Homo sapiens: one gene and its partners. The protein of the gene in region 4 purifies or fractionates together with the protein of the main gene of each other region. This does not show direct contact. Each region holds a gene or a part of one and is shown on either strand. Other genes may lie near its edges.

Evidence for each region.
Region 1: the proteins of FMR1 (region 4) and KBTBD2 purify together in Homo sapiens (affinity purification with mass spectrometry; 3 studies listed by BioGRID and IntAct, with this or other methods). This does not show direct contact.
Region 2: the proteins of FMR1 (region 4) and PRRC2C purify together in Homo sapiens (affinity purification with mass spectrometry; 2 studies listed by BioGRID and IntAct, with this or other methods). This does not show direct contact.
Region 3: the proteins of FMR1 (region 4) and CAPRIN1 purify together in Homo sapiens (affinity purification with mass spectrometry; 2 studies listed by BioGRID and IntAct, with this or other methods). This does not show direct contact.

The regions. Positions count from the first base shown.
Region 1 is NC_000007.14:32,867,745-32,874,772, reverse strand, and holds the end of KBTBD2 (kelch repeat and BTB domain-containing protein 2), read left to right. Parts: intron 1-3,892; coding exon 3,893-5,428; 3' UTR 5,429-6,601; downstream 6,602-7,028. UniProt on the Homo sapiens protein: Substrate-specific adapter of a BCR (BTB-CUL3-RBX1) E3 ubiquitin ligase complex that acts as a regulator of the insulin signaling pathway, modulating insulin sensitivity by limiting PIK3R1/p85alpha abundance in adipocytes.
Region 2 is NC_000001.11:171,537,516-171,544,543, forward strand, and holds part of PRRC2C (protein PRRC2C), read left to right. Parts: intron 1-2,455; coding exon 2,456-4,714; intron 4,715-7,028. UniProt on the Homo sapiens protein: Required for efficient formation of stress granules.
Region 3 is NC_000011.10:34,054,703-34,061,730, forward strand, and holds part of CAPRIN1 (caprin-1), read left to right. Parts: intron 1-5,775; exon of another isoform or gene 5,776-6,489; intron 6,490-7,028. UniProt on the Homo sapiens protein: mRNA-binding protein that acts as a regulator of mRNAs transport, translation and/or stability, and which is involved in neurogenesis, synaptic plasticity in neurons and cell proliferation and migration in multiple cell types.
Region 4 is NC_000023.11:147,914,891-147,921,918, forward strand, and holds part of FMR1 (fragile X messenger ribonucleoprotein 1), read left to right. Parts: intron 1-7,028.

The DNA of each region.
Region 1 (7,028 bases), on a different chromosome or scaffold from region 4:
ATCCACCTGCCTTGGCCTCCCAAAGTGCTGGGATTACACGCGTGAGCCACTGTGTCCAGCCTACAGGTAAGCATTTTTTTACTCAGTTACATACATGAGTTGTAGCTTATTGGTTTATTATGTGGTTTATTTTGTGAGGAAACATTGTTAAACATTTTTTATTTATGTTTTTGAGATGGGGTCTCGTTCGGTCACCCAGGCTGGAGTGCATTGGTGCAGTCATGGTTCACTGAAGCCTTGAACTCATGGGCTCAGGTGATCCTCCTGCTTCAGCCTCCTGAGTAGCTGGGATGACTAAAGGTGTGCACCACCATGCCCAGCTACTATTTTTATTTATTTATTTATTTATTTATTTTTATTTATTTATTTTTTTGAGACGGAGTATCATTCTGTCACCCAGGCTGGAGTCTAGTGGCGCGATCTCAGCTCAGATGCAAGCTCCGCCTCTGGGTTCATGCCATTCTCCTGCCTCAGCCTCCCGAGTAGCTGGGACTACAGGTGCCTACCACCACCCCCGGCTAATTTTTTGTATTTTTAGTAGAGATGGGGTTTCACCGTTGTTAGCCAGAATGGTCTCGATCTCCTGACCTCGTGATCCACCCACCTTGGCCTCCCAAAGTGCTGGGATTACAGGCATGAGCCACCACTCCCTGGGCCAATATTTTTATTTTTTGTAGAGACACGATCTCACTGTGTTGCCCAGGCTGGTCTCAAAATCCCAGGCTCAAGCAATCCTCCTGCATTGGCTTCTCAAAGCCCTGGGATTACAGGTATGAACCACCATGCCTGGCCCAGTAATGTCTTTTATCTATGTAATTTTCTTATTACGTGTTTTAGAAGGTAAAAGGTTTTTTTCTTTTTACAAAATGTGTAAGGGAAAAACAATAGGATTTGATTACCCAGTAAACTAAGTAGTTTTGTGATGGGAATGTAAATCTGTTAATAAAAGAGATAGGTGAAAATTTTATACTGGTTTCGTGTGTTTTACTACCTAATATACCTGAGAATTTTGATTTCAAGTTAAAGTAATTTTTTTTTGAGACGGAATTTCACTCTTGTTGCCCAGGCTGGAGTGCACTGGCACAATCTTGGCTCACAACAACCTCTGCCTCCTGGGTTCAAGTGATTCTCCTGCCTCAGCCTCCTGAATAGCTGGGATTACAGGCATGTACCACCATGCCCAGCTAATTTTTGTATTTTTAGTTGAGGTGGGGTTTCACCACATTGGCCAGGCCGGTCTGGAACTCCTGCCATCAAATGATCCACCCGCCTTGGCCTCCCAAAGTGCTGGGATTACAGGCATGAGCCACCACTCCCAGCCAAATTAAAGTAATTTTTAACAGTGTTTATTGAATTTAAGTGTTTCAATTTTTTTTTTTTTTTTTTTTGCTTAGAGCTTAGATATACTAATTTTTCATGGTACTATTTTTCACAGAAAACTTGGTGGAAATTATGATAAATATTTATAATGGCTATGTGACCATATTGAGCAATTAAGGAGAAGTATTTAAACAAAACAAGTGATGGTTGATATATTTATGTATGACAAACTGTTTTACTCTTTATTTCCCCATCATGTTCCCTTTTTAAATTTTAAGAGGAATATAAGAGTTTTTTTCTTCATTTCATCTCCTGTTTTGGAATAACACTGTATTTCACTAAGTTTCTTCAGAGGGAGAACCTTTAGATCAAAGGTTAAATTTGGAGAGCACTGTTCGTGATATTTGTTAAGTACTTAATAAATATGCACTGAATGAGTATGCATGACACTGGTTGAATGCCAACACCTGGGTATAATTCTGGAAACCAGAACTCAGTTCATGCTTTATGTAGTCTCCTTCCTTTTTAATCTTCCATAGGTTGAGTACCCTTTATCCAAAATGATTGGGACCAGAAATCCAGTTCAGCCAGTTTCAGATTTTTTCAGATTTTAGGATATTTGCATTATATGTTAGATTTACATCATCCCTAATCTAAAAATCTAGACTCTGAAGTGCTCCCGTGAGTATTTCAAGTGTCATGTCAGCACTCAAAACATTTCAGTTTTTGGAGCATTTTGGATTTTGAATTTTTGAATTAGGGATACTCAACTTTTTGTGTGACAGGGTCTTGCTCTGTTGTCCAGGCTGCAGCACAGTGGTGAGATCACAGCTCACTGCAGCCTCGATCTGGGCTCAAGTCATCCCCCAGCCTTAGCCTCCTGAGTAGCTGGGTCTGTAGACATGCATCACCACACTTGGCTAATTATTTGATTTTTTTGTAGAGACAAGATCTTATGTTGCCCAGGCTAGTCTCAAACTCTTGAGCTCAGGCACTCCTCTCACCTAGGCCTCCCAAAGTGCTAGGATTACAGGTGCGAGTTACAACACCTGGCCAACCTTTACTCCTTATTACACTAACTTTATCGTTAGTGTTCTACTCTACCCACAACTCTGGGGAAACTGAGGCTGGGGTAGCTTGCTGGTGCACTAGTAATTCCAAACTTGAACGGGAGAAATGCTTATTGGAAGCACTGTCTTTATATAGTTTGCAAGTTGTCATTACTTTTTATTTTTAGAGACATGTCTTGTTCTGTTGCCCAGGCTGGAATGCAGTGGCATGCCACCATGCAGTGGCATGGTGATAGCTCACTGCAGTCTCAAATTGCTGGGCTCAAGTAATCCTCCTCCCTGTAATCCCAAAGTGCTGGGATTATAGGCATGCACCAGCACATCCAGCTAATTTTTTGTTGGTCCTTCTTTTAAAAGCAGGCATTTCTCAGAATTACTAAGGCATTAAGGAATTTTAAGAAAATCTGATTCCAGAATACTTTGTTACTGTAAATATTGACACTGCTCCTTAACATTTTTTTTCTGCCATTTTAACGAAAACCGTATACTACTTCTGCTTGCTCAAATGCAAAACAGGACTCTGCCTCTTAGACTGTGTTGCCCTGGAAGCCTGAGATGGGGCATTCTATGACTACCAATATTACTTTCACTATCAACCACATGAAGTGATCATATGTTTCAGTACCAGATGGTGTACTGATACTTTATATATATTCTCATCTGATCCTTACAGGGCTCATTTGAGGGAGATAACTATTATTTCCCCATTTTATATAAGAGAAAATTGAAGTTTAGAGATGTGAAGCTTCTTTCCTAATAAGTAGTTTCCAGGTACTAATTGGCCAATTAAGTTTTAAATCCAAGCAACCTGACTTGTCAGTGTAAACAGTTTCTAGTTAATCACTGTGATGCTGAATAAGTATAGTGGGTAGCACATCTGATTCAACTGAGATCTACCTTCTTAAGAAAAAACAAATCTAGGAAGCTTACAGTGGCTAAGATGGGTCATTTAAATGTAGGTGATTTATAACTGCACGTAAGTCTATTTCGTGTTGCTTTGTTATCTTACCTCTCGATAAGAATGGCAAATAACTACTCTTACTCATTGTGCATGATTTTCTGGTTTTATGTGACTGTGTTCAAATTGAGGAAACCAGAATCCAGTTATTCAACAACAATAATTTTCTCTATACTATGATTTATTTACATTTTTTCATATAGTTCTCTCAATTATATATAAAGTCTAGGAAAGTATGACTTATGTGTGAATTTCCTTACCTATTCTTTAAGGCTGTTTTGTTTTTTAAGAGCCTATTTATTGTTGTACTGCTGGTTCCTAAATAGAACAGTTAAGTAGGCCACTGAGCAGGAAAAAATACTGCAAAATTTTATAGTCTTCTGAGTTTATTACTACCAGAAGACCTTATCTCAGCCCAGATGTGTGTATCTGAAAATAAAAATTACACTATGGGCATCTGATTAATATACTTACGTCTTACATAAAAGTAAAATGTGTCTGTCCTGGCCCTATCAGCCTGTTTTTTTTTTCCTTCTCATTCTAGGTAGAAGATGTGTTACAACGTTGTCGAGAATATTTAATTAAAAAAATAAATGCAGAGAATTGTGTACGATTGTTGAGTTTTGCTGATCTCTTCAGTTGTGAGGAATTAAAACAGAGTGCTAAAAGAATGGTGGAGCACAAGTTCACTGCTGTGTATCATCAGGACGCGTTCATGCAGCTGTCACATGACCTACTGATAGATATTCTCAGTAGTGACAATTTAAATGTAGAAAAGGAAGAAACCGTTCGAGAAGCTGCTATGCTGTGGCTAGAGTATAACACAGAATCACGATCCCAGTATTTGTCTTCTGTTCTTAGCCAAATCAGAATTGATGCACTTTCAGAAGTAACACAGAGAGCTTGGTTTCAAGGTCTGCCACCCAATGATAAGTCAGTGGTGGTTCAAGGTCTGTATAAGTCCATGCCCAAGTTTTTCAAACCAAGACTTGGGATGACTAAAGAGGAAATGATGATTTTCATTGAAGCATCTTCAGAAAATCCTTGTAGTCTTTACTCTTCTGTCTGTTACAGCCCCCAAGCAGAAAAAGTTTACAAGTTATGTAGCCCACCAGCTGATTTGCATAAGGTTGGGACCGTTGTAACTCCTGATAATGATATCTACATAGCAGGGGGTCAAGTTCCTCTGAAAAACACAAAAACAAATCACAGTAAAACAAGCAAACTTCAGACTGCCTTCAGAACTGTGAATTGCTTTTATTGGTTTGATGCACAGCAAAATACCTGGTTTCCAAAGACCCCAATGCTTTTTGTCCGCATAAAGCCATCTTTGGTTTGCTGTGAAGGCTATATCTATGCAATTGGAGGAGATAGCGTAGGTGGAGAACTTAATCGGAGGACCGTAGAAAGATACGACACTGAGAAAGATGAGTGGACGATGGTAAGCCCTTTACCTTGTGCTTGGCAATGGAGTGCAGCAGTTGTGGTTCATGACTGCATTTATGTGATGACACTGAACCTCATGTACTGTTATTTTCCAAGGTCTGACTCATGGGTAGAAATGGCCATGAGACAGACTAGTAGGTCCTTTGCTTCAGCTGCAGCTTTTGGTGATAAAATTTTCTATATTGGAGGGTTGCATATTGCTACCAATTCCGGCATAAGACTCCCCTCTGGCACTGTAGATGGGTCTTCAGTAACTGTGGAAATTTATGATGTGAATAAAAATGAGTGGAAAATGGCAGCCAACATCCCTGCTAAGAGGTACTCTGACCCCTGTGTTAGAGCTGTTGTGATCTCAAATTCTCTATGTGTGTTTATGCGAGAAACCCACTTAAATGAGCGAGCTAAATACGTCACCTACCAATATGACCTGGAACTTGACCGGTGGTCTCTGCGGCAGCATATATCTGAACGTGTACTGTGGGACTTGGGGAGAGATTTTCGATGCACTGTGGGGAAACTCTATCCATCCTGCCTTGAAGAGTCTCCATGGAAACCACCAACTTATCTTTTTTCAACGGATGGGACAGAAGAGTTTGAACTGGATGGAGAAATGGTTGCACTACCACCTGTATAGTGGGGAAGTTCAGGGAGTGCACGCCTGAGTTATGTGCTTTGTCATTTTCTTTGCTAAACAAAAGAGGCTATGAAAGAACTAAATATGAGTACATAAAATTCTATCTTTGATAAATTTTATTTTTATGCCCTACTTAATATTTGCATCAGTATAATATATATCAGTGAGTCTTACAGAAAGATATGCTTCCATAATATGAAATAGATTATTCAATAATTGAGAAACTTTATGTGTAATCATGAGAGTATAAGAATCTGGATTATCTAACATTGTTAGCCCTGTGTATGTACAGTTCAAAAAGTTCATTTATAAAAGTAGTTTCCTGTTCCTAGTGTGATGTATCACAAATTGTGCTGAGGTTATTTTAGTATGTGTGTTTCATTCCCGTGCTTCTGTTCTGAAGTCCTGGAATACAGTTTTCAGTGTAATTAATTCAACTGCACTTAACACTAATGTCCGTGTTGGTATAGAAATGTCTAAATCCTATACTCTAGTTGAGGAAGATCTTCCATAATTTTATGGTATTACACAGGGAAAGCTATGACTGCAGGATCAGTCTAACTATACTATTAGGTGCATGTATTCTCTTTTCACTAACTTATACTTGTCTATCTAGAATACAGGTCTTCCAGTCAGCTGGTCATTTACCAGGTGTGGACTTAAGTTGCTAGGCTTGCAGTAAGAATTGCCAGCCACTCATTGTGCGGGTCTGCGTGGAGCTTTAATCAGAAAAAGCCTCCACTTTCTGTATTATGTTAACATTGGCTCATGCATATAACTATCTGCTGCTGATGTAGTTCTCCATCTTCAAGATTTAGAGTGGGTTAACCAGGTCATTACATCTTAATTTAATAACAAGCATTACTGTAGAGTGATTGTGTATAGATCTGTTAGCTGTCAGGGTGTGTTTTTTTTAACCTGTTGTGTGCGTGTGGGGGTTAGGATTAGTAAGGTGAACTGTTCAGGAATTCTCTGCACTAGCTGTGCAGAAGAGCAGATAACTAGCGCTGCTCTGGCATTAATCCCAGGAACCACTAGCAGTAGTGGGGCGCCGCCAATCTAACATGAGCACAGGTGCTTCATGACAAACATTACTAGCATGTTCAACTGCACCATGTTCTGGCACTGTATTTTGAATGACATTAATTTATTAAATAAATTGTATATATTCAATATCTATTTTTCTTTTGTTATGGGAATGGTCTGCTTTTTAAATTTTGATTTTGCTAGGTCAAACTTAGCTAGTAATAGGTGGTTTCTTCCAAATTTTGTTTGATGAAGATTGAGAGATATGCATAGGCTTTCCTTAGGCTAGTGTCTTTCTACCCTGCTGGCATGTTAGAATCATCTGATTCTGATCATCATCTTTAGAAGCTTGAGATGATGCCTGAACCTCACCCCAAACAAAATGGTTTCTTTTTAGAGCACATCATTGATCATGTTTATAGACTTGAACTGCCCCTCCACTGCCTACTGAATGAAGTCCAGATTCCTTACCACATTTAAGGCTCTCTCTAATTTGGCTTTAAATTACCTTTACAGCCCTACCTTGCATTGTTTTTCCATAAGCCTTATCTTCTGATTAGGCTTTCGCTATGCT
Region 2 (7,028 bases), on a different chromosome or scaffold from region 4:
GGTAAAAGGAAAACTGTGTAGTGTTTCTGAAGATCATTCCAATTTAGGACTGAAGCATAAATCTGGTTTCCTTCTATTTAATTTAGCATGCTACGCTTACTCTTTGGACATATTCTCTGTATTCATTAGGGCATTTTGTAACCTGGTTCTGTACTCAATTGTATGCTGTAATTTAGTATTAGATGTTGAAATTGGTAGGTTCTTTTTTGAGATAGGAACTTGCTCTGTTATTCAGGCTGGAGTGCGTTGGTATGATCTTGGCTCACTGCAGCGTTCACCTCCCAGGCTCAAGTGATCGGCTTACCTCAGCTTCCTGAGTGGCTGAGACTACATGCGTTCACCACCACACCCCGCTAATCTTTGTGGGGTTTTTTGTTTTGTTTTTGTTTTTGTTTTTGTTTTTGAGACAGAGTCTTGCTCTGTCTCCCAGGCTGGAGTGCAGTGGCGCGATCTCAGCTCACTGCAAGCTCTGCCTCCCGGGTTCACACCATTCTTCTGCCTCAGCCTCCTGAGTAGCTGGGACTACAGGCACCCGCCACCACGCCCAGCTAAATTTTTGTATTTTTAGTAGAGACGGGGTTTCACCGTGTTAGCCAGGATGGTCTCGATCTCCTGACCTTGTGATAATCTTTGTATTTTTTATAGAGATGGGGTTTTGCCGTGTTGCCCAGGCTGGTCTTGAACTCTTGGGCTCAAGCAGTCTGACTGCCTTACCTCCCAAAGTGCTGGGATTATAGACGTGAGCCATCGTGTGCAGCCACTTGGGATGTCTTTATTGTAGAGTAGGTGTGAAGAAATTTAGGTGTATCTACAATGCTTATATAATATAGCTAGATGTAATTTTTCCATTAGTGAGATGTTTCTTTTTAACAGTATTTTAGGGAACATTTTTAAGGCCAAGATAAGGAGAAATACAATAATACAAAGTTAACTTTGAAATGGCGCACAATTGGTGATGACTGTAATAATTTATAGCCATACAGTTGGAACTTCCTGCCCTTTTATGGGCTATATTTTTTTGGTAATGTTTTATAATGTTTTATAATTATTTGTAATTAACTGGGACAGATAAGCTTACTCAAGTGTACTCTTTCATTCTAGGTGGAAATTACTGGTCTTGATGGATTAGAAATTCACATCAGCATGGTCTTAACTTTGTTTTTCCTTAAGGAATAAACTTCATTTATTTATTTCTATTTTTTATTTTTATTTTTTGAGAAGGGTCTCGCTCTGTCAGCCAGGCTGGAGTGCAGTGATGCAATCACAGCTCACTGCAGCCTTGACCTCCCAGGCTCAAGTGATCCTCTCACCTCAGCCTCCTGAGTAGTTGGACTACAGGCATGCAGTACCATACCCGGCTAATTTTTGTATTTTTTGTACAGACAGGGTTTTTTCATGTTGCCCTGGCTGGTCTCAAACTCCTGGGGCCCTAGTGATCCTCCTGCCTCCCAGAGTGCAAGGATTACAGGCATGAGCCACCGCTTCAGGCCCATTTTTTTTTTTTTAATGGAGTTTTGCTCTTGTTGCCCAGGCTGGAGTGCAATGGTGCCATCTCAGCTCACCGCAACCTCCGCCTCCCGGGTTCAAGCGATTCTCCTGCCTCAGCCTCCCTAGTAGCTGGGATTACAGGCATGTGCCACCACGCCCAGCTGATTCTGTATTTTTAGTAGAGACGGGGTTTCTCCATGTTGGTCAGGCTGGTCTCGAACTCCCGACCTCAGGTGATCCGCCCTCCTCGGCCTCCCAAAGTGAGGATTGGGATTACAGGCGTGAGCCACCGCACCCGGCCCTATTTATTTTTAATTGTGGCAGAAACCACTTAGAACATTAGATATATCCTCTTAACAAAAATTTAATCATATGGTACCATGTAGTTAACTGTAAGCAGTGTTATACAGCAAATCTCCAGAACTTTTTTTTATCTTGCATGACTGAAACTTTATACCTATTTCCTATTCTTACCTTTACCTATATTTCCTATATTTACCTTTACCTATATTTCCTATATTATACCTATACCTATATTTCCTATTTCCCCCTACTCCTAGCCCCTGGCAGCCACCATTATGGTTTCTGCTTTGATGAAGTTGATTATTTCATGTTCCTCATGTAAGATATTTGTCCTGACTGACTGACTTCACTTAAGCATAATGTCCTCAGGGTTTATCCATGTTGTAGCATATGACACTATTTCCTTCTTTTTTATCCCTGAATAATATTCTATTGTATGTGTATACCACATTTTCTTTATCCATTCAGCTATTGGATATTTAGGCTGTTTCCACCTCTTGGCTATTGTGAGTAATTCTCCTCTAAACTTTTTATATAGCGAGAGAAAGATTCTCATTATGGTTAAGAGTCATTGCTTTCTGTTTTAGAGGGATTATTTTGCTATATACTTACGCATGGGAAAGATTGCTTTGTTGATTATACCTTTGAATTCTTATCATCATAGGTCTGAAGCTGCGTTGGACCAGGAACAGATTACTGCTGCTTATTCTGTAGAACATAATCAATTAGAGGCTCACCCAAAGGCAGACTTTATCAGAGAATCAAGTGAGGCACAAGTACAAAAGTTTTTAAGCAGATCTGTGGAAGATGTTAGACCTCACCATACTGATGCAAATAATCAGTCTGCTTGTTTTGAAGCACCTGATCAAAAGACCTTATCCGCTCCTCAAGAGGAGCGGATTTCAGCTGTAGAAAGTCAGCCTTCCCGGAAAAGAAGTGTTTCCCATGGATCTAACCATACGCAAAAACCAGACGAGCAGAGAAGTGAACCATCTGCAGGCATTCCTAAAGTAACCAGCAGATGCATTGATTCAAAAGAACCAATAGAAAGGCCAGAGGAGAAACCAAAAAAGGAAGGCTTTATACGATCTTCTGAAGGACCAAAACCTGAAAAAGTATATAAATCTAAATCAGAAACTCGTTGGGGCCCACGACCAAGCTCTAACAGAAGGGAAGAAGTTAATGATAGACCTGTGAGAAGATCAGGTCCCATTAAAAAACCTGTACTTAGAGATATGAAAGAGGAACGGGAACAGAGGAAGGAGAAAGAAGGAGAAAAGGCCGAAAAGGTCACTGAAAAAGTAGTTGTAAAGCCTGAAAAGACGGAAAAGAAGGATCTTCCTCCTCCCCCACCACCACCTCAGCCACCAGCACCAATTCAGCCACAGTCAGTTCCACCACCAATTCAACCAGAAGCAGAGAAATTTCCTTCAACAGAAACTGCAACTTTGGCTCAAAAACCATCTCAGGATACTGAGAAGCCTCTGGAACCTGTGAGTACTGTTCAGGTAGAGCCTGCAGTTAAGACTGTAAACCAACAGACTATGGCAGCACCAGTAGTCAAAGAAGAAAAACAACCTGAGAAAGTCATCAGCAAAGACCTTGTTATAGAGAGGCCTCGACCAGATTCAAGACCAGCAGTTAAAAAAGAATCAACTTTGCCTCCCAGGACCTATTGGAAAGAAGCTAGAGAGAGAGATTGGTTTCCAGATCAAGGATACAGAGGTCGAGGCCGAGGTGAATATTACTCCAGAGGTCGAAGCTATAGAGGTTCTTATGGAGGGCGTGGCAGGGGTGGTAGGGGACACACTCGAGATTATCCTCAGTATAGAGACAATAAGCCAAGAGCAGAGCATATACCCTCAGGGCCTCTCAGACAGCGAGAAGAAAGTGAAACACGGAGTGAGAGCTCTGATTTTGAAGTTGTCCCCAAAAGAAGACGACAGCGGGGTTCAGAGACTGACACAGACAGTGAAATTCATGAAAGTGCAAGTGACAAGGACAGTTTAAGTAAAGGCAAACTTCCCAAAAGAGAGGAACGGCCTGAAAACAAAAAACCTGTAAAGCCTCATTCTTCTTTCAAGCCTGATAATCATGTTCGAATAGATAATAGACTGCTAGAAAAGCCTTATGTAAGGGATGACGATAAAGCTAAACCAGGCTTTCTTCCTAAAGGAGAGCCTACAAGGAGAGGCAGAGGGGGAACATTCAGGCGTGGTGGAAGGGATCCTGGAGGCCGTCCATCACGCCCTTCCACTTTACGAAGACCAGCTTATCGGGACAATCAGTGGAACCCAAGGCAGTCAGAAGTTCCTAAACCAGAAGATGGAGAGCCGCCAAGAAGACATGAGCAGTTTATTCCTATAGCAGCAGATAAACGACCTCCAAAATTTGAGCGAAAATTTGACCCAGCTAGAGAAAGGCCTCGAAGGCAGCGTCCTACTCGACCACCAAGGCAAGACAAGCCACCTCGATTTAGACGGCTAAGAGAGAGGGAGGCTGCTTCAAAATCAAATGAGGTGGTAGCAGTGCCCACAAATGGCACAGTTAATAATGTGGCTCAAGAACCAGTTAATACTCTTGGGGATATTTCCGGGAATAAGACACCAGATTTATCTAATCAGAACTCTTCAGATCAGGCAAATGAAGAATGGGAAACAGCTTCTGAAAGCAGTGATTTCAATGAGAGGCGAGAGAGGGATGAAAAAAAAAATGCTGACTTGAATGCACAAACAGTTGTAAAGGTTGGAGAGAATGTTCTACCTCCAAAGAGGGAAATTGCAAAGAGAAGTTTTTCTAGTCAGAGACCAGTAGATCGTCAGAATCGACGTGGCAACAATGGTCCACCCAAATCAGGAAGGAATTTCTCAGGTCCTAGAAATGAAAGGAGAAGTGGCCCACCATCAAAAAGTGGGAAGAGAGGGTGAGTACTTTGTTTTAAATATAGTTGCTTTTGCACCTTTAAAGAAGCTAAAAGTAGAGTTCTTGGTTGAATTATGCAAAGAGCCAGTCTAGATAAAGGACCAAAAAACATTGTTCTTCCCAAATGCTTTATTCTCTGTTCTCAAAGTGTAAGGGTGCTTAAGGAAGAGAGGTTAAGGTGTCTTAGGAGTCTTTGCCTGCTACGTTACATTTTCCAGAAGAGTTCTCTTGGAAACTTGTAGCTTTGGGAAAATGTTCACATCTAAGGAGGGACATGTACTGTGTCCTTATTTGGTAAGTTATCTGATGAGTAGCCCTCCCTTCTTTCTCAGTTTCTCCTAATAAACCTCTAATGCTACACAGGTGTCCTCTGAGATTTAAATTAATGTTATAACCATATACTTTGTCACTCTAGAGAGAGGCCCAGAAAACAAATCCCTGTTCTACTACCAAGGACACCAATAACATAATTGCCATGGCAATGGATTTTTTTAAAAAAATATTTTTTCTCAAGTAAGCTAAACTTGGCCTGTTTTTTGTTGTTGTTGTTGAGATGGAGTCTCGCCTTGTCACCCAGGCTGGAGTGCAGTGGCGTGATCTCGGCTCACTGCAAGCTCCACCTCCAGGGTTCATGCCATTCTCCTGCCTCAGCCTCCCAAGTAGCTGGGACTACAGGTGCCCACCACCATGCCTGGTTAATTTTTTGTATTTTTAGTAGAGACGGGGTTTCACTGTGTTAGCCAGGATGGTCTCGATATCCTGACCTCGTGATCCACCCGCCTCGGCCTCCCAAAGTGCTGAGATTACAGGTGTGAGCCACTGCACCTGTTGCTTGGCCTGTTTTTTTAACTATTCAGATGTTGGGCCTGGTGCGGTGGCTCCTGTAATCCCAGCACTTTGGGAGGCCAAGTTGGGCGGGTCACAAGGTCAGGATATCGAGACCATCCTGGCTAACACAGTGAAACCCCGTCCTCTACTAAAAATACAAAAAATTAGCCAGGTGTGGTGGCAGGCGCCACTGGGAGTGGAGCTTGCAATGAGCCGAGATTGTGCCACTGCATTCCAGCCTGGGCCACAGAGCGAGACTCCGTCTCAAAAAAAAAAAAAAAAAAGTTGGTTATAGTAAGCTAGTATTGATTTATTTATTTAGTGTTAGCATTATAACGTAGCAGTTAAGATTCAGAATGCCTAGGTTCAAATCTCGGCTCTAGTACTTTCTAGTTGCTTCCCCTTTGCTTCCTCACCGCTAAAATGGGGAGAAAATAATAGCACTTAATGTGTGAAGATACTAAGATGATACTTGTGATGCACTTAATACCTGGTATATAGTAAGTAATCATTATTATGTGTGCCCTGCTTTTAGAGCAATTGCCAGGTTTGCAGCCTGAGCTGATAAGAATTTAAGAATTTATTTGGACTGTATGGTATTAATCTGAGTTCCTTAGTTTTACATACTTAGCACTTCAGATTACTATACCCATAAGGTATATTTGTCTATTTTCTGTTGATATAACTAAATACCTGAGATCTGGTAATTTATAAAGAAAAGAAATGTATTTCTTGCAAATCTGTTGGCTGCAAAGTCGAAGGTTGAGGGGGCGACATCTCATGAGGGCCTTCTTGTTGGTAGAGACTCTGCAGAGTCCCAAGGCAGCATGCTTATCACATGGTGAGGGGGCTCACAAGAGATGGCACAACTGGCTTTTATAACAGACCCGTTCATGGTAACTAACCAACTCCCTTGATAACCCATTCATTAACCTGTTAAGGATCAATCAATCCATTCAGAAGGGCAGAGCCCTCATGACATAATCACCTTCCAAAGTTCTCACCTCTCACCACTGCTGCATTGCCATTAGGGACCAAGTTTCCAACACATGAACTTTTTTTTTTTTATTGAGGGCGTGGGTGAGGGACGGAGTCTCACTCTGTCACCCAGGCTGGAGTGCAGTGGCGCAATCTCTGCTCACTGCAACCTCCACCCCGCTGGGTTCAAGCATTTCTCCTGGCTCAGCCTCTCTAGTAGCTGGGATTACAGGCGTACACTACCATGCCCGGCTAATTTTTGTATTTTTAGAAGAGACAGGGATTCGCCATGTTTGCCAGGCTGGTCTCGAACTCCTGACCTCAGGTGATCTGCCCACCTCGGCCTCCCAAAGTGCTGGGATTACAGGTGTGAGCCACTGCACGTGGCCCAACACATGAACTTTTGAGGGATATGTTCAAATCACAGCATTAGTTTGCTGTTCCAGATAATTTAGAAAAAGGAAATTTTTACTTGGAATTTGAACATTCCCTTAAAATTCCAAGAGAAT
Region 3 (7,028 bases), on a different chromosome or scaffold from region 4:
AGTGAGCCCCTGTGCCCGGCCTCTTTTTAAAATTTTAATGCAGTAAGCAAGCCTGCTGATCTGGCTGCTACTTGAGTTTTTGATTCTTTAGAATTTCTTGGAAATGTTTTTTTCTAGGACAGTAATTGAACATAAAATATTAATGATTGTGAACATTAATAATGTGTTAATACTAATTATGAACATTAATGATTAGTGATATAAAGTGTAGAGACATTAATGACTGAAAGATAACTCCTCAGAGAAGTTAATATAAAGGTAGGTGCTGATTGGCAGCCAATTTAGTTGTGAGGTGGCTGTTAGAATCTAGTGTTCAAGTACTTCTGAAAAAAAAATATAAATCTAGTTTATAAGCCCCTCCTGAGGACTTGAACCATGACTGGTCATTAAATGTGTATAGGTGTATGTGAATTACTATACTCTGTCATACCCTACCCTCAAGTGATTTTGTTATTTTATTTTTATTTTTTGAGATGAATCTCTGTTGCCCAGGCTGGAGTGCCCAGGCTGGAGTGCGGTAGGATGATCTTGGCTTCCTGCAACCTCCACCTCCCGGGTTCAAGTGATCCTCCCGCTTCAGCCTCCTAAGTAGCTGTGATTACAAGTGTGCGCCACCACCCCAGGCAATTTTTTTTTCTTTGAGAAGTCTCGCTCTTGTCCGCCAGGCTGGAGTGCGACGATGTGATCTCGGTTCACTGCAACCTCCGCCTCCTGGGTTCAAGCGATTCTCCTGCCTCGGCCCCCCGCCCAGAGTAGCTGGGGTTACAGGCACCTGCCACCACGCCCAACTAATTTTTGTATTTTTAGTAGAGACAGGTTTTACCTTGTTGGTCAGGTTGGTCTAGAACTCCTGACCTCAGGTGATCCAGCCGCCTCGGCCTCCCAGAGTGCTGGGATTACAGGTGTGAGCCACCATGCCGGGCCTCCCCTAAAGTCATAAAGGAGAAAATAATGTAATTATTACATAGGTTATTAACTAGGCTAATACATACTGAAAGATTGCCGTGTTAATAATGGAGATTCAACAAACTGCACAAAGTAACTTTTTTTTCTGTCTTCTCAGTGTTTTAAGTGGTAGATAGCAGCAAAAAGGTCAAGTTACAGTTAAGTCTTGAGACTTTGATAAGCCACAGACTGAACTCTACCTACATGTTAAGTAGTTAAGTTGGCAGTATTGATGTTGACTTAATTGCTATTAAAACTATATCTTTTGCCCTTTGAAAAACCCAGGGCATTTGGATTTGCCCTAAATTTAAGCACATCTGGTTTTTAGTTTAAATCCTTTTTATATTTAGATGATTTACTTGTGAGAAGACTTAACTGTTTTTAAGTATAAGTGAGCATTTCTAATGCACTAAAATAGGATTGCTTTACAAATCAGTTTTGAATTCCTCTTTAGAAACCCTTGTGGAGTAAAGTGAGGTACTATTTACAATTAGATTTGTTTTGACTTCAGTCCATTTAGCAACTTACATTTGAGCTTTATTTCAATCTTGACCTATTCTTATCGGAGCCTTCTGGACCAAAATGCTTTTTTTATGGATTTTAAAATCAAATATCCTGGCAAAAATGACTATGGATATGTAGTATTGCTTAAATTAAAACAGAGAATTGAAATAATTTTATTGTACTTTAAAAAACAAAGTTGTTTATTTCCTAATAATTTGAGCCATTAAAGAAAAAGCTAAGCATCTGCTCATTGAGAATGCATGCTCTTAATGTTGATGAAATATGATCGTGTTATGTAATGCAACTAAAAGGCTTGGTGGGTTTTTAAATTCAGGCTTATAAAGAGTACATGAATGTTTAGCAAAGAGAAGAAATACAGCTGTGATAATCAAGTGTAAAATCCATTTGCAAATCTTACAGGTAATATTGAATTGAATGATTAACTGCCTAGTTTTCTTTATCAGTTCATTGGTGCTGAACTGGGCCCTAGGCTATGCAAGATATTTCAAAACCAAGTCTTAATTTTAACTGAAGAGAGACCTCATTTGATATTATTAGATGTAATCAGTTGTGATATAGAATAAAGGATGTTTTAATAGATGACATTTAAAATTGTTATATTCTTTGTGAATATAATAGGTTTAGACTCTAGTGACTTTGGTAGGTGAAAGATTAACTAATGATCACTTGCGTAAAATGCAAAAATAGCCTGACAGCTTTTTAACCACTAAGTGACCAAAACTGATAGCCAGAAGTGTAGTGTTTTTAATACTTTTTCCTGAAGGCTTTCTGCACTTCATCTTTGCAGTTAGTAGTATTCTTTAAAAAGAATGCTGTTGTTGTGAGGGTAACATTTCTTTCTAGAACGTTGCAGTGTGTCTGTGCTTAGAATTTTCATTGCAGCTGTTGTGCAGAACTTATGTGTTCAGTGTTTTAAAATAAAAACATTCTTAACTATTTTATAAGTAAAATCTTTCCTTGAGGCTATTACCTGAAGCCTTCTTTGACATTTAAGATCTCTTGATGTGTTTGCTTTTCCATGGGTTGCAAGAACTATTCTTCTGCAATGCAGAGGGCAAGATTATTTTGCATTCACCTTGTCATAGAAAAAAGCTGTAATGCTTAATTTGTTTCCCTTTGCTTGACTGTGTGTGTTTGTATGTGTAGCACTGGGAAGTATTTAAAGCTGTGAATTCCCCCAAGTGATAATGGGTACCTTTTTCTAGGGTGAGAGTCGAAGCCTAAGTATTACATTGAGAATGTATTGTTTTAACGTGGCCAAATTAGTGTACTCTAGGATACTACCCATGTGGCAGATATTTGAGAATGCATTTTGTGTGACTTACAGATTAAGCATACAATTTGCCAAAATTTTATGTAATTAATTTCCTAGTTTACATTTAGGGCTAGATGAAGACTAGTACTGTTTCATCTTTTAGAAAAACTAACACTTTTCCTTTAGTAAAAGTGTTAATTTTTGCAATACTTTTGCAAAAGGTTAAACTTATAGCAATTTTGTCATAGCTATAATCTTACACTGTTATAAAATTTAGAGGATTTTTAATTTTTATTTATTATCATTATTTGAGACAGTTTTGCTCTCGTTGCCCAGGCTGGAGTGTAATGGCATGACCTCGGCTCACTACAACCTCCCCCTCCCAGGTTCAAGCTATTCTCCTGCCTTAGCCTCCTGAGTAGCTGGGATTACAGGCGCCCGCCACCACGCCCGGCTAATTTTTTATATTTTTAGTAGAGATGGGATTTCACCATGTTGGCCAGGCTGGTCTCAAAACGCCTGACCTGAAGTGATCCACCCACTTCAGCCTCCAAAGTGTTGGGATTATAGGCATGAGCCACCATGTCCGGCCTAAGAGTTTTTTTTTAGAGCTTAAACCACCTTAGAATTTAGTCCAGTTCATTTTATAGAAGACAAAATTGAGATGTTTATATGGAATGACTTAGGTTGGAATGGGTGATTTCCAAAATTCTCGCAGTTTTTTTTGAAACAGAATCTTGCTCTGTCGCCCAGGACTGGAGTGCAGTGGTGCAATCTCAGCTCACTGCAACCTCTGCCTCCTGGGTTCAAGTGATTCTCATGCCTCAGCCTCCCGAGTAGCTGGGATTACAGGTGCATGCCACCACGCCCAGCTAATTTTTGTATTTTTAGTAGAGACGGGGTTTTGCCATGTTGACCAGGCTGGTCTCAAACTCCTGACCTCAAGTGATCTGCACGCCTTGGCCTCCCAAAGTGCTGGGATTACAGGCGTGAGCCACCACACCCGGCCTCTTAAATAATGTTTTATGGGAGTAATTAGAATTTGTAATGTTCCACGGCCTAAGTGTAGTTTTCATGTTTAATTATGTAGAATCAAGTAAAGCCTTTTGCTTCAAATCCTTAGAGTTTTTCTGTTTTAAAAAACTGAATGCAAAAGAAAAATGCTTTCCATTTCCTTATTATTAGACTTTTATTAATGTCTCATTGTTGAACTTTGTGTTTGCATTGTCCGGGTAATGGGGTTCTGAGAATATCGGTAAGGTAAAATCCCAGTGTGTCAGGTATCATTGGGACATCCATATTGTAATGAAATAAACTTTTATAAAGTTAAAACTCTGAAGTTTTTCTTTATGTTTAGCTTCCTATGTACATTTGTCAGACTCTACTCCAGCTTGGTATGTTGTAGACCGGAAAAATCTGGAAAAAGCATTACCAGTAGAGAGAAATAAGAAGTGTGACAACCTTTTCATCCAAATTACTGTATTCCAAGCTTCTGGGTATTTTTTGGTAGTTGGTTCCTTTTTCTGGGGGAAATGAATGGTGTGTGTGTATACAGTATAGAAGAGTGAGAGGAGTAGCAGAAGAGAAATTCATCCAAAGTTGGAACTGTAAATTGCTTTGTTTTAGCTCATTTATTTCTTTCTTTCACTAGCTCTACTACAGTGCTTTTGTTAGATAGACTATGAGTACAAAAACGTGGGTGAAAGATAATTTACTGAGTAGAGTTCAAAATTCAAACTTCCTGAGGAAAGGGGAGGGTGTGCTTCTTGACCATGCTCAGCTAAAGTAGTTTGTTTCCTTTAACTTCCCCTGTTACCTATTGTCTGTACACTTCTTGACATTGTTTTTTTTTTTTTTTTGAGACGGAGTCTTGCTGTGTCGCCCAGGCTGGAGTGCAATGGTGTGGTCTTGGCTCACTGCAACCTCCGCCTCCTGGGTTCAAGTGATTCTCTTGCCTCAGCCTCCTGAGTAGCTGGGACTACAGGTGCATGCCACCACACCTGGCTAATTTTTTGTATTTTTAGTAGAGACGGGGTTTCGCCATGTTGGCCATGCTGGTCTTGAACTCCTGACCTTGTGATCTGCCTGCCTCGGCGTCCAAAACTTCTTGACATTTTTATATTGCCTTGTGTTGTTAACCTTACATGTTTTTCTAAATTGGTAATAAGCTCTTTGTGGGCAGAGACTATTAACATTACTTTGCTGCGCTTTCTCACACATGGTATATGCTGAATAAGTACTTGGTAGTTTGGCCAAATCATTACATAGAAATATCTGTAGCTTCATTAACAACCCTGTTAAAATGGATTAATCCATGGGGTTAGGGAGGAAATGCTTTTTGCACAGAACTATTTACTTGCAGTGTTTTTTTATTGAAATTGATTTTTTTCCTGAAGGGTTTTTTACTTTTTACAGGTGTGTAGAGTTGATGAGTAGGCAAGTAGAAGAATACTTTTTTTTTTTTTTTTTTTTTAAGCTGGGTAGCAGGCTGGGCATGGTGGCTCACGCCTGTAATCTCAGCACTTTGGGAGGCTGAGGCAGGTGGATCACCTGAGGTCAGGAGTTCGAGACCAGCCTGGCCAACCTGTGAAACCCCGCCTCTATTAAAAATATGAAAAATTAGCTGGGCATGGTGGCATGCAGCTGTAGTTCCAGCTACTTGGGAGGCCGAGACAGGAGAATTGCTTGAACCTGGGAGGCAGACGTTGCAGTGAGCCGAGATCGCGCCACTGTTCTTTAGCCTGGGCAACAGAGTGATACTCCATCTCAAAAAAAAAAAAAAAAAAAAAAAGCTGGGTAGCATTAGCAAGATATGTGAATGGTCTTAAGAGAACACAGATAATTCTTATTATTAGAACCATTGTACATTATTGGAAATTTCATTGCATTCTCCTCAATACTGTTCTAAAAATATTTTAATTTTAATTTTTTAGAGACAGGGTCTCACTATCACCCAGGCTGGAGTTCAGCAGGGCAATCATAGCTCATTCCAACCTTGAACTCTTAGCCTTAAGCGATCCTCTTGTCTCAGCCTCCCAAAGTGTTGGGATTACAGGGTTGACCCACTGTGCCTGGCCCCCCTCAATACTGTTATCTAAACATAGAAATAACTGAAATATATTTTAGTCATTAAAAAACCCTTTGGGCTTACACTTTGAGTTACATTGAACTTCTTTTTACATTGTGGACAGGAAAGATAGTAAGCAAAAGTTTCCTCAATTTTTAAAAGGACGACGGTAGAAAGAACACATTGCAATCTATAGATGATCCATGGCAGCTATCTTCAAATGCTGAAAGCTTGCTCATGTAGCAGGAGTCTGTGCTGTTTTAGAAAACGAAAAAGTATTAAAACAGTGATGGTGGGGATGTAATTTTTTTACATTTAACTCCCAAGGAATGTATTAATATAAATAAGTTGTACAGAATTATGCTAAGGAATAGCTTGGTTAAAGCAACTAATATTTTGAAAGATGCCCTTTAAGATTATTTATGGTAATTTGCTTTTCAAATCTAGAAGCTTTAGACTTTTTAAGAATATAGTTCAAAGTAGGTGATGCTGGAACTTGTTAACATTTCTTTTTCCTACTAGAGTCAGCTGCTTCAATTCACTCAGACTTACCTGCATAATTATAACCTTGGACAAGGAATAAAGGTTTTTACAGGATTGGCTTTTATCTTTTTTAAAAAATTGGACAAACGGCTTGTGAAACTAAACTCCTGGATACTTAACCTGCTTGAAAAATTATCTTACAATGGAACCTTAGGTAACATCCTTTTTTTTTTTTTTTTTTTTTTTGAGATGGAGTTTTGCTTTTGTTGCCCAGGCTGGAGTACAATGGCGCAATCTCAGCTCACTGCAACCTCTGCCTCCCAGGTTCAAGTGATTCTCCTGCCTAAGCCTCCCAAGTAGCTGGTATTATAGGCAACCACCACCGCACCCGGCTAATTTTCTGTATTTTTAGTAGAGACCAGGTTTCATCATGTTGCCCAGGCTGGTCTCAAACTCCTGACCTCAGGAGATTCGTCCACTTTGGCCTCCCAAAGTGTTGAGATTACAGGCATGAGCCACTGCACCTGGCCTAGGTTAGCATTCTTATGCCATTCTTAGCGTTCAGAAATCCAGCATTCCTGACAGGTGTTCATTCAGCCTCTGCTTTAACCAGTCTTCCAGGGCCTGGTAGAGTGCTCGTTTCTCAATGAAAATTTGTTTCATTGGTGTGCCACTCTTTAAGTTCTTGGTGGTAGAAGTATATCCTTACCGGCCGGGCACAATGGCTCATGCCTGTAATCCTAACACTTTTGG
Region 4 (7,028 bases):
TGTTGAGAATGGTAATGAATTAACTCCATTTTAAATGTAGAATGCGTATCACTCCAATATGAATGCCCTAATGAATCCTAAGATTTGTAGGTTTTGTGTACTAGTATGAAAATTACTAAAGATGGAAAAATCACATGTTGGAGACATAAGATACAAACCTTTTTGTTTTCTGAAAATACAACCTCTGATTTCTGATTCCTTGTTGTAATATGGTGTAATTATACTAGATTGTAATTTTGTTGTTAGATTATACTTTTTTAAGTTCAGTGTTTGAGGACAGACTTTCATTTGGTTAGTAGTATTATGGCAGCTAGCAGCTAAATATGATAAAGTGTACAATCAAAAGGATATTTTTAATGAAGATATTAGTGGTCTAACATGTCATTTCAGATACATAGCTGAAATGTAGTAAAATCAGTTTTACTACAAATAAACTTGCATAAGGTTTATAAATTTATAAGTTTATAAATCAACTTGGGTAAAGTGTAAATAAACTTGCACTCGTGGTTTCTCTGAAGTCTCCTGAGCTAACTTTGCATAAAGGTGTTATTCTGTACTTCGAGGAAGTGAATTATTGGGGTCAACCACATTTTTTTTCCTTCCTACAGTCTGATTGCCCTTTTTAGTTTTTAGGATCTTTGTGGCTGCATCATTTTTCCCCTTTTGAACTGTGCATTTTCTAACCCCATACTTAAATATTCTCATAACCTCCAAATTATTAATTAGATGCAACATTCAGTGGTATATTACTGGAGTTTCTGATTTCTGCCCACTATAGGAATGTGCTTCCTGAGAAGATTGGGATCGTGATTATAATAATAGTTAACAGGGGATGAGTACTTTCTAGGTGCCAGGCACTGTTCTCTCTGATACTTTATTTGATGTATTGTTGTTATTCCCATTCTTTAAATGATGCACAGAGAGGTTAGGTAAGTGACTTACTACCAAGTGTCAGGGCCATTAAGGGTCAGGATTCTGAATTCCTGAAATGATGAAATTTAGCTTGAAGAAATTGGTTTGATTTCCTGCTTAGTTTTCAATTTCATGGTGGTCTTTGATTGTATTTTGTGCTATAACACTGCCTTAGCATCCTATAACTATAGTTACAGTGTTATATTACCATTTTTTATTGTTAATACAAAGCCATCATGAAATAATTCAGTTTATGTGCCAGCTTTTTTTGTTACTAATTCTTGAACCTTGGCGCTGTACTTCTTCATGTGGATGCCTGTTAAGGAAAGATAAAGTTAGAAATCTTTGACCCTGCTAGGAAATTTGTCTTTGTTATATTGGGAGCTCATAAAACTGAAGTATTCAAAAGTTAGAATACATACACACAAGAAAAATTAGTAACTAATTTAATAATGTTTTCTTTGCACATGTCTCTGTTGTCTTTTGGTCAGAGTGAAGCTAAATGTGTTTTTCACATAATTTGTAGCCTATATGAAGTCCTGGACATGTGGTATGGTTGGAAGGACTGTTGATGAGGTTTATTGTCTCTCTTTATTCTTTTATGTTGTTAGTGTCCCCATACAACGGGGCGGGGGGAGTGGGGACAAAATGATAACTTGCTTTATATATGAAGCCTTGGGTTTGAATCATACTGTTATCACATTTCCTATGTCCCTATCCTGTCTCCTGCAGGTTTTCTTTCTTGGTTTTCTTTTTTGGTTTTCTTTCTTCCTTTCTTCCTTTCTTTTCCTTTCTTTCCTTTCTTCCTTTTTTCTTTCCTTTTCTTTTTTCCTTTCTTTCCTTCATTTCTCTCCTTTGCTCCTTTAGTTTGTTTCTTTGTTTCTTTGGTTTGTTTCTTTGTTTCTTTGGTTTGTTTCTTTGTTTCTTTAGTTTGTTTCTTTGTTTCTTTGTTTCTTTCAACAGGTCTCACTGTCGCCCAGGTTGGAGTGCAGTGGTGGGATCTCAGCTCACTGCAACCTCCACCTCTCGGGTTCAAGCCAGTCTCATGCTTCAGCCTTCCGGGTAGCTGAGATTACAGGCATGTGCCACCATTCCTGGCTATTTTTTGCATTTTTAGTAGAGATGAGGTTTCGCCATGTTGGCCAGGCTGATCTCAAGTTATCTGCCTGCCTCAGCCCTCCAAAGTGCTGGAATTACAGGCATGAGACACCGGGTCCAGCTTCCAGCAGGTTTTCTTTAGGAGGGATATTTTACAATGCTGTAAGTTTTTCCTAACGAGAATTATCATAGCACTACATGTTCTGTCTTCAGTAAGTGATACAAGCTTACTGATGATGTTGTAGTTATGTTCATTGGTGGTCGGGTGTACATTGAAACTTTAACACATAATAGCCTCTCCTGTGAGCAGTGGTTCCTGTTGGTAAGATACTTTACTAAGGGAAGGAATGTGAGGTGTCGCTGGGGAGAGTTTACCCAAATAAGGATGGACTTTCTGTCTTTGTTTCATCAGTCCTGGTAATAGAATGTTTGAATAGATAGCTCTAGGCATTACATACTTTCATAAATATGATTATTGTAATTACCTCTTTGGCCCAGTTGCTAGTAAATTAGGGACCCCTTAATGATTTATTTCCTGTTTATTCACCCTGATGAAGAACTTGTATCTCTTTTAAACTGTACTTTATCGCCTTTCTCAAATTCCAAGATTCTCATCACATTTTTTTTCTTCCCAAACTCTAAATAACCTTTTAATATTAAGTATCTTTGTGGAAACATTGTTTTCTTTTTCTATCCCAATTTTTAAAGCTTTTTTAAAAAAAAGAGTGCTTTTGTTGGGATGTACATTTTCCAAATGCAAAAACATTTATGATTCTGTGTCTCTTATAAAATATGACACTCTCTACTTTTCTCTCATTTATTTAGTGCCACCTATGTGTGTAATTTCATTACCCACAGCAGTCTTAGGAGGCTGGTCGAGTTCCTTATTTGCAGATGAGGAATCTGAGGTCCAGAGATCACTTCTTGGTGAGAGTCTCACAGCTATTAAGTATTAGAGCCAAGATTTTGAACGTAGGTCTGATTCACAGCAAAACCGTTAACCACTAAGTACACTGACTCCAGTAAGAGCCCTAGTCCTCACCCAATACACTTTAATTCCCCTGTGCATTCATTCAAATTCATTGAATTTGCTGCCTTTGGAAACCTCTCAGGAACCTCCTCAACCTCTCTTCTCTACAGACATCAGCTTTGCCTGATAGGTAGGGATCATAGCAAAACACAGTTTTCCAAGGTGGTGATAGGTGGAGTGATAGTGCTCTGGAGATGGCCAAAGAAGGAAGGTATGAGTGTATCTGTGGGTGGGTGAGTGGTGGATAAGGGGAAGGACAGAGCCAAAAGCGACGGCTATTGGAAAAACTATGATGAGAAACAGGAAGATGGAACCTTGTTGGAATTAGTGAAAGACCTTAGAATTCACAGGAGGTATTTGTCCTTCACGCGAGTGTAGACCAAACGTAACCTATGAGTTTCTTTTATTCCACTTATTAAAGCAGCAACCAAAGGTATTATATACCTTCTGTATTCACTTAAAATGACTGATTTTGAAAAAGTCATGCAAACATCCATTTACAGATAAGCCTCATTAACTCAAAGGCAGTGGCCCTGTTGGGCTCTGATGATTACTCAAACCATTTCTGACACTCTGACACTACATCCGGAAATCATCCGGAAATGCATTCAGAGCCTGCAAAAGCTTTTTTTTTTTTTTTTTTTTTTTTTGAATAGCTACAGCACTTGCAGATCTTCCTCCTTTGAGAGAATATTTGATTTTAGGAAATAAGCAAATGTAGATAAGTATGATTCAACTGGGCAATAACTTTTAGGCAAAGAGAAAAAAACAAAATATAGCAATGTAGTAATAAGGCTGATATTATAGTGCTTTTATGATGAGTCTGAAAACAGTCTCCAACATTTGTAAATGTTTTAAATCGGGTCTGTCTACTACAGTAGCCCTTAAGCCATATGTAGCTATTGAGCACTTGACATGTTGCAAGAGTGAATTGGAGACTGATTTTAATTTTATTTAATTTTAATGTAAGTAGTCGCACATGACCCGTGGCTACTATGGTAGATGGCATAGTTTTAGACAAGGGCAGTAGTCTTGGGTAGATACTTGATTTACTTAGAACATTTCTTTACCTAGCTGTAACAAGGTTCTAATAGCTGATTAAAGGACAACATTTTTAGCATGTAATATACAGTAAGGAACTAATGTTAATTACTGCCAAGATGTATAAACATTATGAAACCTTAAACAAGGATGAACACAGAAGCAGTGGCCCTTCTTTGTAAATAAGGGGTCAGTTACTTCCTAATAGGTGTCTTAGTTTTAGTTAATAATCTAATAGCACCCCCAAAAAGCAAACTGTTAATTTGTTATTAGCCATCCTGTAAAGACAAGGGAGAAATCGGGGCCAGGAGAGTCCTCTTTCCCATTCTCCATAATTTTTACGACCTATAGAAATAAGAGCCTAAGAGTGACCAGTTCCTGCAACCTAACTCAAAATTAGGCCTCTCTGTTGAAGTAATAGTGAGGCAAACAATCCCTTGAAGCACTGGGGCATGCACCCTTATGAAATCTAATAATTCTAAAATATCATTGGCAGTATTAAGCTAGAGTTCTCAAAATATGCTGTAGAAAATATTGGTCATTTAAATATAGCTGAGTAAAAATAAGCAAGATCAAAATGATAAGAAAATGTTGATTTCTCCCCTTTTGAACCAGTAACTAACTATAAGGGTATATACCCATGCTTAACTTAAAAATAATTATTTAGCCACCTTGGGTATAGCACAACATATGGATGCCATTATAGTCCACCTTGATCTTACAAGGAAGCTTTCTTTTAGCGTAGCTTTACTTTTATTTAAGCATTATTGAAGAAGCTTGGTATCTCTGTTTAAGTTGCTTCTGTATCAGTGTTTTCCAGGGCCCTGTCTCAGCTTCCATAGTTTTTCTTAAGAGCAGCTAATTAATGCTTCACTCCATATGCTTTAATTTGATATTTTGGGAAGTTTCATTTTTTAAAATAATCTTTTTATATCATAGGCCTTTGAAGACATATTTGTTTACAAAGACATCTGCATTGAACCATTTGTTTTTAAAAACATGTATCGGGCATGTTCTATATACCAGAAACTATGCCATTTACTGAGGACACCGAAGTTAGAGAATGGTCTTAATCCGAACTAGTTATTGTCTCACTATCCAATATGGATATCAAACATTCAGCGTCATGAGGATTTACTACTGTGTTTTCTCCCAAGAGTTTTATAATTTTAGCTCTTATATTTAGGTCTTTGATGCATATTCATTGATTTTTTTTTGTATGCAGTATGAGGTAAAGGTTGAAACGTATTCTTTTTGCATGTGGGTGTCCACTTGTCCCAGCTTCATTTTTTGAAAACACTATACTTTCCCCATTGAATTGTCTTGGCTTCTTTGTTGACAAAGGATTTATTATTTCTGCCACAACCCAGCTGTTTCTCACTGTCTAAACCTTTATGCCTGCTGCCCCGTAGGCTTAGTGGAATGCCTCTCCATCCTCCACTCTCTTTTGTTTAGCTAGTACTTCCTTATCCTTTAAGGGGTCAGTAGGAACCTCACCTTCTTCAGTATGTTTTCCTTTGTCTTATCAACCTACCACCATCACCCACACACATACCTTTTCCCTAAGGCTGGGATAGGAACCTCTTAGGCAATGATCTATTTGATAAGTACTCACTGAGTTCATACTAGACACTCTGCAGTATATCCGTAAATGAAGTAAAACCTGACACCACCCTCAGAAAACTTACTGTTAGTGAGAAAATGGGCTATAATAATAGAGTGGGGTAAGTTTATTGTAGGGATAAGCATAGGATGCTATGAGAATGCAGAGGACAGGAATTTAACCTAGACTTCTCAGTTCTCCCGTTGAAGTTGACATCTGAACTGAAATCTGGAAGACCAGTAAGAGATAGCTATGTAAAAAGAGGGGAAGGACAATAGGAAAGAAGGAATGGAGAGAGGCCCAGAAACTACAGAGTATGGCACAAGTAGTTTAGCATTGTTGGGTCACAAATTCTAAGGATATGAAAGATAAAGTTGAAGAAGTGGTGGGGCTGGGGAGGACAGCTCCTGTAGAGCCTTTTACAGCGGGAGAAGGAGTTTGGCTATGGTCCTGCAGGCAGGGAGAAACCACTGAAGGGGAGAAACATACAGAATAAATTTGAGTAAGAAGCTTAAATCTCCCCAAGCCCTTTTAAAATAAATTAAGATATAAAGCCTTTGGGTTTCTTTATGCTTTGTCCTATTCTTCTAATTGTCCAAAACAAAACAAAAACCTTCCTTTTCTGTACCTATTAAAAGGTTAATTTTATAAAGTTACAGACAGCATGCTGATTAAAGAATTCTTGATAATTAGCTATTTTGTCTGTCTTTGTGTAGATTACTAACAATTGTGTCATCAGATTTAAAAGATCTAAACCTCTGGACTTTATATATTTTTTCTACAAGTACTGTGAGATTGAGAACTTAATTCAACTCTAGTAACTGGACTTTTTAGTGTTGTTTGCAGCATATGATTGTTAAAGAAAGTTTAGTATATTTGTGTGTGCGTATATATATATATATAGATAGATAGATAGATTTGAGGTTATATTTAATCATTGACTATTGGTATTCTAAGATTTTAAGGAGAGAAAGGTAGGTTACAATATATGGCTGATATATGGTTCTGGAACAATTTTCTTAGTTTTCAGTAATTCTACCTAAAATGTACGTCCAGCTTTGCACTCACTACCACATTGTAATTTCCAGTATACTTGTCTATTTTTCGAGATGTTGAAATCTGTGGAGAATTTTTTCTCATGTTTAGTGTTTTAGCTATGTTTATCTCTAGGGTATAGCACATACAAGGTGGCAATATAGATGTGCTTAATGAATAAAATGATCTTCAAAAACTGACCTTCATTTGAAGTTCTATTTTATTCATAAACACATAAAACGTTTGGTATCACTGTAAAATTTAACTAAAAACAAAAACTATCTTTAAGCTCACAAGTTAATTTAACGT